Linked DNA regions of Homo sapiens. The protein of the gene in region 1 interacts with the protein of each later gene in a pairwise test. Each region holds a gene or a part of one and is shown on either strand. Other genes may lie near its edges.

Region 1 (7,025 bases):
TCCTTAATCTCTTGAAGGAAACATTTAGGATCAGTCCTATTACAGAGGACAGTAACATCTCCAGCCTAAAACACAGGGGTGATGGAGGTTACCAATGTCAAAGAAGAGAAGGTGCAAGAAAGAAGAAAATGACAAAAACAGGCCATTGACATGCTACTAAACAAGAGGTGTTCTTACTCACAGCATGTACTCAGTTGCAACAGCAGCAGAGGGCCTTCCCTGCTTCCTCCCTAATTGCTTTATGCCCAGTGCCAAGTGTGGGCAGGGGACAGGCCTGACTTCAGCAACTGCAGGAGTCTGGGCAGGGTGGGGCAGTATAGTCGGGATATAACAGAAATAAAACCAAAACCCCACAGATACATACAAAACCCCAGCCACAACCCAAACCAAACAAATAAGCCCTTCCAGTCACAAAAACACATCGGCTCACGCTTACCATCATGTAAGGGTCGTCTACGATCGGGTAAATGTAATCTGTGGTTTGAACCAAGGAAAGCCCACCGTGCCTCAAAGGAATGACACAAGTATCCATTCCAATGCCTGTGGAGATGGAAGTCATTAGCATCCAAAAATAAAACGGGAAAGCCATTTCATTTTATATCACCAGTGCTCTGAACAGGAAGAGCTCATAAGATACTTATGGAAACTGCAGGCTGCCAATGAAGCCATGTGTTTCCTATCAAGAAGCGTAACTGAAATAAACGTGAAACATATCCAGCTTAGGATGGAAAATACCAATGAAAATGTTACTCATCAAGACTCAACTCCAATATGGCATAGTTTTAATCCTTAATGATGCCTTGAATAAAAATCTTTTTCACTGTATGACTTTTATTATTTTACTGTATTACTGTAGCGTGTGACTGGTACCGTATACAATTTCTTTGAAGATGAGAATCCTATAAATGGAACTTGGGTTATCTTAAGTATAGTTATTGTGCGTACATCTTTACAGACATTATCGTATTGTCCCATCAGAAACCATGTAAAATATTTTTACATTGAAAAATGCTATTATTACTTATACATTTTAGTCAAAAGTGAAAATGACACACACACAGATGAAATGAAAGGACAAATCCCAATCTACAATTCAATGGAAATTTCCAATCAAGCCTGGATATAAACACTCTGGCATCTATGTCAGAGGAGTCCCAAGACCACCAGTAGTAGTCAAGATACGCTACTCCTTGTCTTGGAGATAAGGCTGTACTCCTTTAAAAATTACTTGTAATGCAGGCATTTTACAAACTCAGACTAGCATTCCCACCAAGAAAGCTGAACACAGTGAGCAGCCCTACACCCCTCAGAAGGACACTCTTCTGTCCTCTTATGAGGACAGCTGTTCCTTGGTATCTGTGGGGGACTGGTTCCAGGACTCCCACAGACACCAACATCCACAGATGCTCAAATCCCTGATTTGAAATGTCCCAATATTTGCATATAACCTACACACATCTTCTCACATACCTTAAATCATCTCTAGATCACCTATGACACCCAATACGATGTGAATGCGATGTAAATATTTGTTATGCTGTACTGTTTAGGGAATAATGACAAGACAAAAAAAAGTCTGTGCATGTTGAGATGCAACCATCCACTTCTTTCCCTGCATATTTTCAGTCTGTGGTTGGTTGAATCCCCCACGAGGATTCTGCAGATACAGAGGGGGATGCTGTACTTCTACTTTGCAGCCCAATAGCCAAAAGCAGGGAAAAAGCCAGAATTAGGACAAAAGGAAGCAAATTATGTGCCTGAATCTACCCTATAAATTCAGAATTTCAAACAAGTTTAAATCATATCTGAATCGCACTAAAACGACCTTTAATATTCTGCGTAAGTGAAAGGGCCGTGAAGCACTGCCTCACTCGGTCTCATGACAGCAGCAGACCTCACAGAGGCGGGTCATGGAGGCACCAGATCTTTCCTGCTGCAAAAATGAAATCTCACTCAATAAAAAGCCATAGTCTGTGAAGACAGGCTGATTTTTATCACACTAGATAACAAAGCAGAAACTCTTGCTGGAAGACCTCGCTTAGGGAATGGAGAAGTGAAGTTCAGAATGGCAAGTTTCAACAATGTCAGGCACTGGATCAGTTTTCATCTGTCAGAGGAGAACGTGTGAGATAATTCACGTAAACAGCCCATGGGCACAACCTCTCAGAAATTTGTTTCATCACACTCTTTAGCACCTAAATAGAAATACCACTCTTTAACTCAATGGATTCTCCCTAAATGGATAATTCTGACAACTGGTTATTCTGAGTATATTATTATTCACTTTGGAAAACAGTAAGAGGCAGTTTTCTTTCAGGCTTCCATTTAAACTGGAGGACTACTGAAAGAGAAACTAAAATTGTTGCTGAATGTTAGCTTTAAATGTTCTTAATTTGAATAATCTTAAATTTGAATTACATACATTTGATTTGTAAAGCGCTTTATTTCTAAACTTAGCAAGTCCTTTGATCAGAGTAACGGGGGATTCTTGAGCACGCCCCTAGGGCTGAAAAGCAGCTCCGTTATCCACGGTTTCTCTTTCACACCTGTGCCACCACAGTCTACTAGAATAGGGTCTGGTGCTGTCCAATGTGGTTGACACTAGACACAGGGGGTGGCTGCGCATCTGACAAACAGGTGCTGTAAGTACAAAACAGACAACTGATTTTAAACACCTAGTACCAAAAACCAACATCTCATTAATAATGTCGTATATATACATACTGAAAAGACATTTTTATATATTGTGTTAAATAAAATAGATTATAATTAATTCCACCTGATTTTTGTTATCGGGTTTTTAAAAATATTACTTTGAATTTGAAAATTACGCATGTGGCTTGCATTGTATTTTTGGACAGCACTGGTCTACAGTGATTGGTTTAGAAATCACCAATCACATTTCAAGGAAGGAAGAGAGAAGGGGTGAGCCTGAGATGCCCACAGGCCTTGAAAAACTAGCGTTTGAAATGGAAAGACAGAGGGACGGTCCAGAGGGATGGTAACTGGGAACAGAGGAAAATGCCACAGGGTCGGGGAAGCCTTAAATACTAGACAGAACAGTTTAGGTTTAATGACCAGGAGGCAATGGGCAAACTTGCTGGAAGGTTTTCAGCAATACTGACATCCTCCATCAGAAAGACAACCTAAGTTATCACACCACTACCCACCCCCAACCCCTGCACCGCCCCCGCCAGCAGCAGCAATCATTACTTGATAGCTCCTAGGCACCAGGCAACAAATGTCTCTGGTTCTAAGGCACACTTCTTTTACCATTTCTTTAATTAGGATACATTTAGTAATCGTGTGTACATTTAAAAGCTGTTTTGGTTAACCCTTCAATTAACACCATTTTTGAAGCCAGAAAACATGACATTCAATTAGAAAAAAGTTAAAAACATAAACAGGCCGGGCGCGGGGGCTCATGCCTTTAATCCCAGCACTTTGGGAGGCCGAGGTGGGCAGATCACTTAGAGTCAGGAGTTCCAGACCAGCCTGACCAACATAGTGAAACCCTAACTCTATTAAAAATACAAAAAAATTAGCTGGGTGTGGTGGTGCACGTCTGTCATTCCAGCTACTTGGAGGGAGGCTGAGGCATGAGAATCAGGCCTGGGAGGGCCTTGAACCCGGGAGGCAGAGGTTGCAGTGAGCTGAGATTGCACCACTGTACTCAAGCCTGGGTGATGGAGTGAGACTCTATCTCAAGGAAAAAAAAAAAAAAAAGATGGCGGGGCGCGGTGTCTCACGCCTGTAATCCCAGCACTTTGGGAGGCCGAGGCAGGCGGATCACGAGGTCAGGAGATCGAGACCACTGTGAAACCCCGTCTCTACTAAAAATACAAAAAATTAGCCAGGCATGGTGGCGGGCGCCTGTAGTCCCAGCTACTCGGGAGGCTGAGGCAGGAGGATGGCGTGAACCTGGGAGGCGGAGCTTGCAATGAGCGGAGATCGCGCCACTGCACTCCAGCCTGGGCGACAGAGCGAGACTCCGTCTCAAAAAAAAAAAAAGTTAAAAAAATAAACATACAGCCGGGTGCGGTGGCTCACGCCTGTAATCCCAGCACTTTGGGAGGCTGAGGTGGGTGGATAACCTGAGCTCAGGAGCTTGAGACCAGCCTGGCCAACACCTTGAAACCCCGTCTCTACTAAAAACACAAAAAAATTTAGCTGGGTGTGGTGGCATGCGCCTGTAGTCCCAGCTACTTGGGAGGCAGAGGCAGGAGATCACTGCTTGAACCTGGGAAGCGGAGGTTGCAGTGAGCTGAGATTGTGCCACTGCACTCCAGCCTGGGCGACACAGTGAGACTTCATCTCAACAACAACAAAAAAAAGGTCAAAAACACCCATACATATATACCATATATACTTGTGTACAGAGGGTATACACATACATGTATTATATATGTAAGTACAGACATACATGGCACACCTACACACATTTTTGGTACAACAATGCAAAACAGTAATCTTTTTTTTTTTTTTGAGGCAGGGTCTCACTCTGTCTCCCAGGCCGCAGTACAGTGGTGTGACCTCAGCTCACTGTAGCCTCTGCCTCCCGGGCTCAAGGGATCCTCCCACCTCAGCCTCCCGAGTAGCTGAAACTACAGGTGTACACCAGCAAGCCCAGGTAACTTTTGTATTTTTAGTAGAGATGGGTTTCACCATTTTGCCCAGGCTGGTCTTGAACTCCTGACCTTGAGTGATCTGCCCATCTTGACCTCCCAAAGTGCTGGGATTACAGGTGTGAGCCACCGCACCCAACCCCAAACAGTAATTATTATTTTATAGATTAGGAAGCTGAGGCTCAGGAGGGCTGGGTGACATTCATGACATAATATGAGTGACTAGTAAGTAACTGTGCCAGAGGAAGTTATAAATAGTAATTCTTACTTTATGCCGTAATGTTTTAATTTCATTGGTTTTTGAGCATTAAGTATTAATAGCTTTTTTTCTTGACAGTTATCTAACAGCTTCCTCAGTATATTCTCATTTCTCGACAAATAAGCCAACATCAAACCCAGCTCGCTCACATGGTATTTCTCCACAGCTTGGCCATCAGCTGGACGGCAGGAACTGTTTTCAAACTGAGCTCCTCAAAGTCCTGCAGGTCACCAGCGACTGGGGTGTAACATTTCTTCCTTTCCAACAAAAGCAAGTCTGCTTTTATCTGCTTTCTCTATCTGGGAGTAAAGGAGACCCCAGGCTCATAACCAATGAACCTTACCAAATAATGGGCAAAAACAAATGAAATGAAAACCTTGGCTGGGTGTGGTGGCTTACACCTGTAATCCCAGCACTTTGGGAGGCTGAGGCAGGCAGATCACCTGAGGTCAGGAGTTCGAGAACAGCCTGGCCAACATGGTAAAACTCCCATCTCTACTAAAAATACAAAAATTAGCCGGGCATGTGGCAGGGGCCTATAATCCCAGCTACTCAAGAGGCTGAGGCAGAAGAATCGCATGAACCCAGGAGGCAGAGGTTGCAGTGAGCCAAGATCACGCCACTGCACTCCAGCCTGGGTGACAGAGTGAGAATCCATTTCAAAAAAAAAGGAAGAAAACTGATCAAGTCACACAGTAATTATCGAACATCCAAACCTCCGAAACTATGCGTCGAACACAAGAAAAGTGATCACAGTCTTGTACTGTGTACTTAATAAACTGCACAAGAAACATGAATAAACAATATCCCAGGAGCCCAGAATTTGTTTCTAAGCTCTGTGTTTGGGAAAAGTGAAATCACTCATGACATCAGGAATGTAGTAAAGAAAAAGACATTGCCCTGGTTCCAGATGACATCCTGGGGTCAAGAACAGATCCATCCAGTCCTGGGTCTGGAGCAGTCCCACCTCCTCACCGTAACACGCTTTTCGCCCGATGCACCCTGCAGAGAACCCCAATGCCCTCCTGACACAGTCACTGCCATCCAAGTACAGCACAAGAACCCTAAGGCTGGAACCGCCTTTCCTAGGGCAATGAAGGGAATGTGAGCATTTTAGGAGTCCTTTTAGGAAAAGGGAATAAAGTATTTCTGCTTAATCTTCAGCTAACAGAAAATTCAATTCAATTAAATTGAAAATAAAAATTAAAAAGTTTTTACTGTAATAACAATCTCAATTGCATACTCCATGATTTAAAAACTGTCAAGAGTACCCCTCTTGATGCGTTTCAAGTACTTTCTCTACATAAGTTACAAGAACATAACATAGCAATCATAACATTGATTGCTCTTCTAATCCTTCCCACAAAAATTAAAAAAAAATAAAGGGGGTACGATGTACACTATTTGGGTGATGGCTACACTAAAAGCCTAGTCTTCACCATTATGTAATATATTCATGTAACAAAACTGCATGTGTATTCCTCAAATCTATAAAAGCAAAAAAAGTAATAATAAAAAATAAATAGGCAACATGGGAGGCGAGAAATCCAGTTTTTGACTCACTGATTGGATCGCAGACCATCAAAGAAACACTGGGTTACCTACCAAGCCTTGGCATAACGGCTCCCAGAAACTGCTCATCTTCTTGGAAGTGGTTCTCCTGTAAAGATTCCAGCAATTTTTGCAGGACATCTTGGGGCACTTTGCAGCCTGTGCCCTTCAGTTCAGTGAATCTGGTTAGCCGGAAGCTTTTGTCCAATTCGTAACTTTCCGGGTTAAAGGACTCCCGCGTAGACATGGTTCTTGGGCCCCGCTCTCCTCACAGCTCAGCCCCTCCCCTCCCTCTGCGGGTTGGCTGGGTTCTTTATGGATCCACCTGGGTGTCACCAAAACACAAAGATGCCATGAAAAGAATTCCCACTGGGACCTGCCAGCGAATCAAGTGAATACATGACAGCGAAAAGTCAATGTGACAAGGGCTGAAATCATCAAGACCACTTATATTCACCACAGCAGTGCATATGACAAAATAGATCTTTTCATAACGGGACTGCGTCAGCACAGACATCTATGTAAAATCTGACATCTGGACTGTGGTTTTAACTGTGGCAAGAGGGCCAGCCTGCAGGTTCACATGACAC
Region 2 (7,025 bases), on another chromosome or scaffold:
AGTCAATGAAACTTGAGGAGGAAAATAATTTATGAATTAAAAATGCCACGCAAATTTTCTTTTTCAGAATTGGTATAAAAATTCTGAAAGAGAAGCTGCTACTCAACTAGGATAGTATCCACATTTTCTTGTGTGAGCTCTGACTCTAAGGCACAAGGCAAGTCTAAGTGTTCTTGTGACAAGCGAGAACTTTTCAGGGAGACATCAGACCAGCTGTCACAGTATGGCTGAAATCTCTGGGCCAATGCATTACCAAACCTTTGGCATCGGTTATATCTGTAAGATTTACCTTTGTGTGTATACATGTGTTCCAACAATTGGCTCTTTCGAGGGAATTTATGACCACAGATGGTACAGCTCATTTTTCTTTTCCTTGAAAAAGAAAAATTACAGTTTAATTCTACTGGCTCTGTGTCTTTGGAGATCAAAGATACTTGACTGATCTGCAAAGGCTCTGTGGTACCCCGGTTGGTGTGGTCTGGCTGCTGTTCATTCTCCTTAACAATGAAGGAGCTGAGCCTGCGGCATTCAAGGGCCTCGCTGTTTTCATTAAGGGGATGCACTTCACCAAGGTCATTACTTTCCAGAATGGAAGCAGGGACACCGAATGGCAGGGATCCAGACACATGTGTATGGAGATGTTGCCTTAGGTTACTACGGGAATCAAAACGTTCCCCACAGTAATGGCATAAGTGTATTTTGACACTGTTTTCAGTAAAAGTGGGGCCTGTCACCTCTGATGAGGGTGAGGGGTGGCTCTGGGAGATCACAGATTCTGGGTCACATCTCTCCTGCTTGATGGAAACTGGGGGCTTCTGGTGCTCCTCCAGGGCCTGGGTGGCAGGACAGGCCCTCTGCTGGTCTGCAGTGCCATCATCCAGACCAATAGCAAGAGACAACTGCAACTGGGGGTGGTCACCCTGGACAGCAGCTCTGTTTCCACTGTTACTGGAAGGAGCTTCTTTGACCTCCAGTCCTTGTTTGACAACTGTTTTTTGGGTTGTTGAGATCTGAATGCCATATAAATTTGAGGACTGCACAGTCTCTGGTGAGAACACTTGATTCATTTCAGTTGCAATGTGAGAAAGGTAGTCGGCGTGAAGAAATCGAATCCCTTCCTCCAAACGACTATGATCCACAATCTGTTTTGGCCCTTTCCCCGTGTACATAATGTGCAACAAATAGCTGAATATGTCAGGTTGGATGTCAGTTGGTTGTATTTTTATGCATTCACTGTTAAAAACAAAAACAGACCCACAAGAAATGAAACACAACCTAGCTGGCCTTTCAGTTAACAGTATAGTCTGAGACTAAAGCAATTTCTTCCTAAGAAGTTCGAACCTAGCAATCTGCCTTAATAAAACATGGCAACAAAGGCTTAAACTTTCATTTTATACCAACTTTATGGCCTAGCAAAAAGTCTTCATGTATTCAATCTACTGCCTAAAGTTAGGAAACACAGACATACATTCTGAATAGTTCAACATTAATCAAGTGACTCCTAAGTGATATGCACTATACTAGATGCCAGCGGTAGAAAACTGATGAATAAAATAGGTACCTGCTCTTAAGGAATTTAACAGTCTATCAAGTAAACGATCAAAAGAACTAAAAACAGGGACTCAAACAGATACCTGTATGCCAATGTTCACTGCAACATTACTTACAGTAGCCAAAAGGTAGAAAGAAGCTGAGTGTTCACCAAAAGATGAGTGGATAAACACAAGATGGCTTACACACACAATGGAATATTATTCAACCATAAAAAGAAGGAAGTTCTGATACATGCTACAACATGGAGAACCCAGAAAATATCATGCTAAGTAAAATAAGCCAGACACAAAAGGACAAGTATTATATAAAATATCTAGAATAGGCAAATTCATAGAGATAGAAAGTAAATTAGCGGTTTCTGGGGGTTGAGAGGGTGAGATGGGGAGTTATTGCTTAATGGGTACAAAGTTTCTGTTTGGGGTGATAAAAAAGTTTTGGAAATAGACAGTGGTAATGGTTGTACAACATTGCGAATGTGATTATCACCACTGCATTGTATAATTAAAAATGGTTAAAATGGCAAATTTTATATGTTTATAGCCACAATAAAGATATCTTAAAACTTCTGAAAGAACCTATTGAAATCAGCAGGGTGCGGTGGCTCACGCCTGTAATTCCAGCACTTTGGGAGGCCGAGGCAGGTGGATCATCTGAGGTCAGGAGTTCAAGAGGAGCCTAACCAACATGGTGAAACCCTGTCTCTACTAAAATTACAAAAAATTAGCCGGGTGTGGTGGCGCACACCTGTGGTCCTAGCTACTAGGGAGACTGAAGCAAGAGAATTGCTTGAACCTGGGAGGCGGAGGTTGCAGTGAGCTGAGATCATGCCACTGCACTTCAGCCTGGGCACCACTGCACTCCAGCCTGGGTGACAGAGCTAGACTCCGTCTCAAAAAAAATAAAAATAAAAAATAAAAAAAACAAAAGTGTTATATGAAACAAAAATTAACAGCTTAGTGACTAAAAGCATAGACATAGCTTCAGACAAATCTGCATCTAACTTATTAGCTGTATAATCCTGCATGGGCATGTTACTTAACTCAGTCTCAGTTTTCTTTTTCCTGAAATAGGGACAGCAGTAGAATTTACATTATAGGGCAAATACTTAGTGCTTGGGTATGGGATAAGCCTTCAATAAATTTTAGCTATTCTTTCCTTTTTCTTTTTTTTTTTTTGAGACAGAGTCTCGCTCTGTCACCCAGGCTGGAATGCAGTGGCGCGATCTCGGCTCACTGCAACCTTCACCTCATAGGTACACGCAATTCTCCTCCCTCAGCCTCCCGAGTAGCTGGGACTACAGGCGCCCACCACCATGCCTGGCTAATTTTTGTATTTTTAGTAGAGACGGGGTTTCACCATATTGGCCAGGCTGGTCTCGAACTCCTGACCTTGTGATCCGCCCACCTTGGCCTCCCAAAGTGCTGGGATTACAGGCGTGAGCCATGGCGCCCAGCCAATTTTAGCTATTCTTATTTTCATTCTTATTTTCCATTATGGATCCTACACACTGAGTTTAATTACTAATGTATAAAAAATTATTATAATTTGGCCAGGCATGGTGGCTCATGCCTGTAATCCCAGCACTTTGGGAGGCTGAGGCAGGCGGATCACCTGAGGTCAGGAGTTTGAGATCAGCCTGGCCAACATGGTGAAACCCTGCCTCTACTAAAAATACAAAAATTAACCGGGCGTGGTGGCAGGCGCCTGTAATCCCAGGTACTCGGGAGGCTGAGGCAGGAGAATCGCTTGTACCTGGGAGGCAGAGGTTGCAGTGAGCCGACACTGAACCATTGCACTCCAGCCTGGGTGACAGAGCAAGACTCTGTCGCCAAAAAAAAAAAAAAAAAAAAAAAAAAAAAAAAAAAATTATAATTTTACTTCTTAGTGTGACTCCGTAACAAAGAATTTCCAAAATGATACTATAATAAAGCTTATATAAATCACAATATTAAAAATTCTTATTTACAAAAACACATCCTTACCTTGTTTGGTGAATAAATATCATCTTGAAATAGTTAGAAAAAGCAGCAAGCACTGCTCTGTGGGCTTTGAAGTAAACATCTCCAATTGCAACTGTGCAATCACACAGAAAACCAAATTCTCGCTGCATGTTCAGCTGCTGGAGAAGAACAAGGCTATGGCTGGCAGTGTCCATTGTGGTTCTGAAAAAAAGGACAAGATAAATGTAGATAGGTGTGTATGTATATACGCATTATTTTTTATTAATACAAAATTGTCTACAGTTCACACAAACCTACAGAGTAACAAGGAGATCTAAATTTAAATGAAATTATTCAAGTTTTCAATCCTATTACTTTCACTGCAAACACGGCTAACACTAAATTCCTCCATTATGACAACTGATATAAACTCTGCTGAACCATAAAATATGACCCTTTTTCATCTGGTAAGAAGATAGCTTGGTATGAGTGACACATGAAGACAGACCTGTCCTTTTCCATCTATGTGAACACAATGTTTCTAATCTTGTTTCCTCATTAGAAAAATGAAAATGAGATACTGATTCCTGCCTCAGAGTTAAATAACTTATGTGAAAATCATGTTGTAATGGAAACTGCTATTCGATGTTAGCTATAAATGTTAATAACATAACACGGTATCCTGGCTGAGCTAGAGATGTCACTCCTCCTCAGGGATCCTCTGGTGCTCAGGGGATACTGGCTTCCCAACTCTCATCAAATGTTTGGGGGACTTATCATCACAGTAGCTCAGGAACTCTTAAAATAGATGTCAAGCCACATCCCCAATTTACTTGTGGCCCAAGAGCCTCCTGAGAAAGAACTTAAGCTGGCGCAGTGGCTCATGCCTGTAATCCCAGCACCTTGGGAGGATGAGGCAGGAGGGTTGCTTGAGCCCAGGTATTGGAGACCAACCTGAGCAATATAGTGAAACGTCATCTCCACAAAAAATAAAACAATTAGCTAGGTATGGTGGCATGCACCTGTACTCCCAACTACTTGAGGGGCTGAGGCAGGAGGATCACTTAAGACTGGGAGGTCAAGGCTGCAGTGAGCTGTGATCACACCACTGCACTCCAGCCTGGGCAACAGTGAGACTCTGTCTCAAAAACACACACACACACACAAAAGAAAGAACTGATCTCAACTGGATTCAGACGCATATTATAATGTAGGTTCCCAAAGGAAGTAAAAGGCAAGGTGGAACAACTGCGGGGAAGCCTATATGAGGAAGAACATGCAGAATTCTGGCCAAGAAGCCGAGTATAAGCAGCAAAAACATTCAGAAGTGCCCTGGTTTCAGGCAGGTGGCAGACTGTACATCATCTTCTCTACCCTACTGTGGAGAGAGCCCTGGTACTTTAGGCAGAAGGTAGCTGTAGTATAAAGGGCATCATTGGGTGGCCAGGAGAACATCCTTTGAAAGAGCAGACACTGAAAAAGAGAATGAGGTTTCCACACCAGCCAGCCAGACCAAGGTCTAAGGAGGTCAGTGATGTAATGCAGGGTTAGCCGTCTAAAGATTGGCAGTGGCTTGGGCAGCAGACAGCTAAGTGATCAGTAATATAATAAATATAGCTAACATTTTATAGTGCTTCCTATGTGTCAAAAATTAGCCAGGCACGGTGGTGCATGCTTTAGTCCCAGCTACTTGGGTGGATGTGACAGGAGGATAGCTTTAGCCAGGAAGATTGAGGCTACAGTAAGCCATGATCATGCCACTGCACTTCACCCTGGGTGACAGAGCAAGACCCTATCTCAAAAAAAAAAAAAAAAAAAAAAGGCAGACTCTATTAAAACTACATATTTAATGTACTGATGTGGAATAATCCCCAAGTTATATTATTATTATTATTATTATTATTTGAGACGGAGTTTTGCTCTTGTTGACCAGGCTGGAGTGCAACGGCTCCATCTCGGCTTACTGCAACCTCCGCCTCCTGGGTTTAAGCGATTCTCCTGCCTCAGCCTCCCAAGTAGCTGGCATTACAGGTGCCCGCCACCATGCCCAGCTAATTTTTGTATTTTTAGTAGAGACGGGAGTTCACCATGTTGGCCAGGCTGGTCTCAAACTCCTGACCTCAGGTGATCTGCCCACCTCAGCCTCCTAAAGGCATGAGCCACCGTGCCCGGCCTAACAAACTAAAAATCTGTATTGACAATTTCAGCATGTGAAAAACGTGTCTTAGAATCAATGAAATGGTTCATATTGAAGCATCTTAAACTAGCCTGATAAGTTGTCTCAAAAAAAAAAAACAAAACCAAACCCTCGGATCATAAACATTTTCACCAGTTCTTCCCATTATATTGAACTACTGAACCATAGGGAAATGAGACATAGCACACTAATAAGCCACCCATACAGGAATCTTATGGTTAATGGTCTGTTGGTAACAGTTAAATTCTTCACTTATTCAACAGATATTTTTGAAGAGCAATTTAATAAAGAAAAAATGTGTAAAAGCCTGCATTGTACAAGGCGTGGAGACAGAAAAAAATGACAAGATGCTACACTCAAGATTACAGGCTCACAGGAAAGATAAAACATCAAACCATAATTATAATATGAAATAAATGCATTCAGTAGCACAGAGCAGTTAGAGAACATGCTATCAGAGGGAGATAAACACAGGCAACTTGATGGGAAACAAGGCCAGGCAGAAAAAATAAAATGAATAAAATTACTGGGAAGAATATGAATAGTTAGATAACAGAAGGATTCAGCTTGGCATAGAAAAAAAAAGTAACAGAAATAATGAAATGTGGTCAGTTCAAAAAGCATACAGAATATAAGACTAAAAAGTAGTGTCGTGTTTGAAGTGAACTATGTAAGATGTTTGAGTAAGAACAGCATGATCAGTTAACTTACTCTGTGGGAGGGAGAACAGAGCGTGGTAGTTAAAGCTTGAACTAAAATCAGACAGCTTAAAATTTTAGCTCTGCCATTTACTAGCTGCGTGGTCTTGGCAAGACACTTAACTCTCTGGGCCTCCATTTCACTTATAAAATATGGACAATGACAGTATCTAACTTATAGGTTATTTGAATTTAATGATATAATGCACTTAGAAACAGTGGGCCCACAGTTAGTGCCTAATAAATACTAGGCATTATCATCATCACCATCATTAGGCGTGAGTAAAGACTGCTCTAACAGCAACATATAAAAAATATTAGCAAGGGAAAAGGCATGGAGAAAGACTGGCTAGGAGCCTACTATGGTATCAAAGTAATCGCAGTGGGAATGAAGGAAGGAATACAAGAGATACATCAGACACAAAACTGACATGACTTGTCACCACAGAGATCAAATCAAAGGTGAGTCTCAGAATTCCAGCTTGGGTAATTGGAAGAATTCATCCATTCCTTCAGATTACATTTTCAGAGTAACTGCCATGTGCTAGGTGTTGATATAAAGGCAGAGTCCCAGAACATTAGAGAAGAAGTACAGAAACCGTCTTGATAAGAGGTTCTGAGACCCCACCTCAAAAA

Evidence for each region. The genes of interacting proteins can lie anywhere in the genome.
Region 2: the proteins of SEPHS1 (region 1) and ZBTB25 interact in binary tests that used the Homo sapiens proteins (3 or more experiments, as listed by UniProt).

What each region holds. Positions count from the first base shown.
Region 1 is NC_000010.11:13,338,269-13,345,293, forward strand, and holds part of SEPHS1 (selenide, water dikinase 1), read right to left. Parts: intron 6,761-7,025; 5' UTR 6,683-6,760; coding exon 6,490-6,682; intron 2,641-6,489; exon of another isoform or gene 2,423-2,640; intron 541-2,422; coding exon 437-540; intron 1-436. UniProt on the Homo sapiens protein: Synthesizes selenophosphate from selenide and ATP.
Region 2 is NC_000014.9:64,486,825-64,493,849, forward strand, and holds part of ZBTB25 (zinc finger and BTB domain-containing protein 25), read right to left. Parts: intron 3,717-7,025; coding exon of another isoform or gene 3,710-3,716; coding exon 3,537-3,709; intron 1,234-3,536; coding exon 99-1,233; 3' UTR 1-98. UniProt on the Homo sapiens protein: May be involved in transcriptional regulation.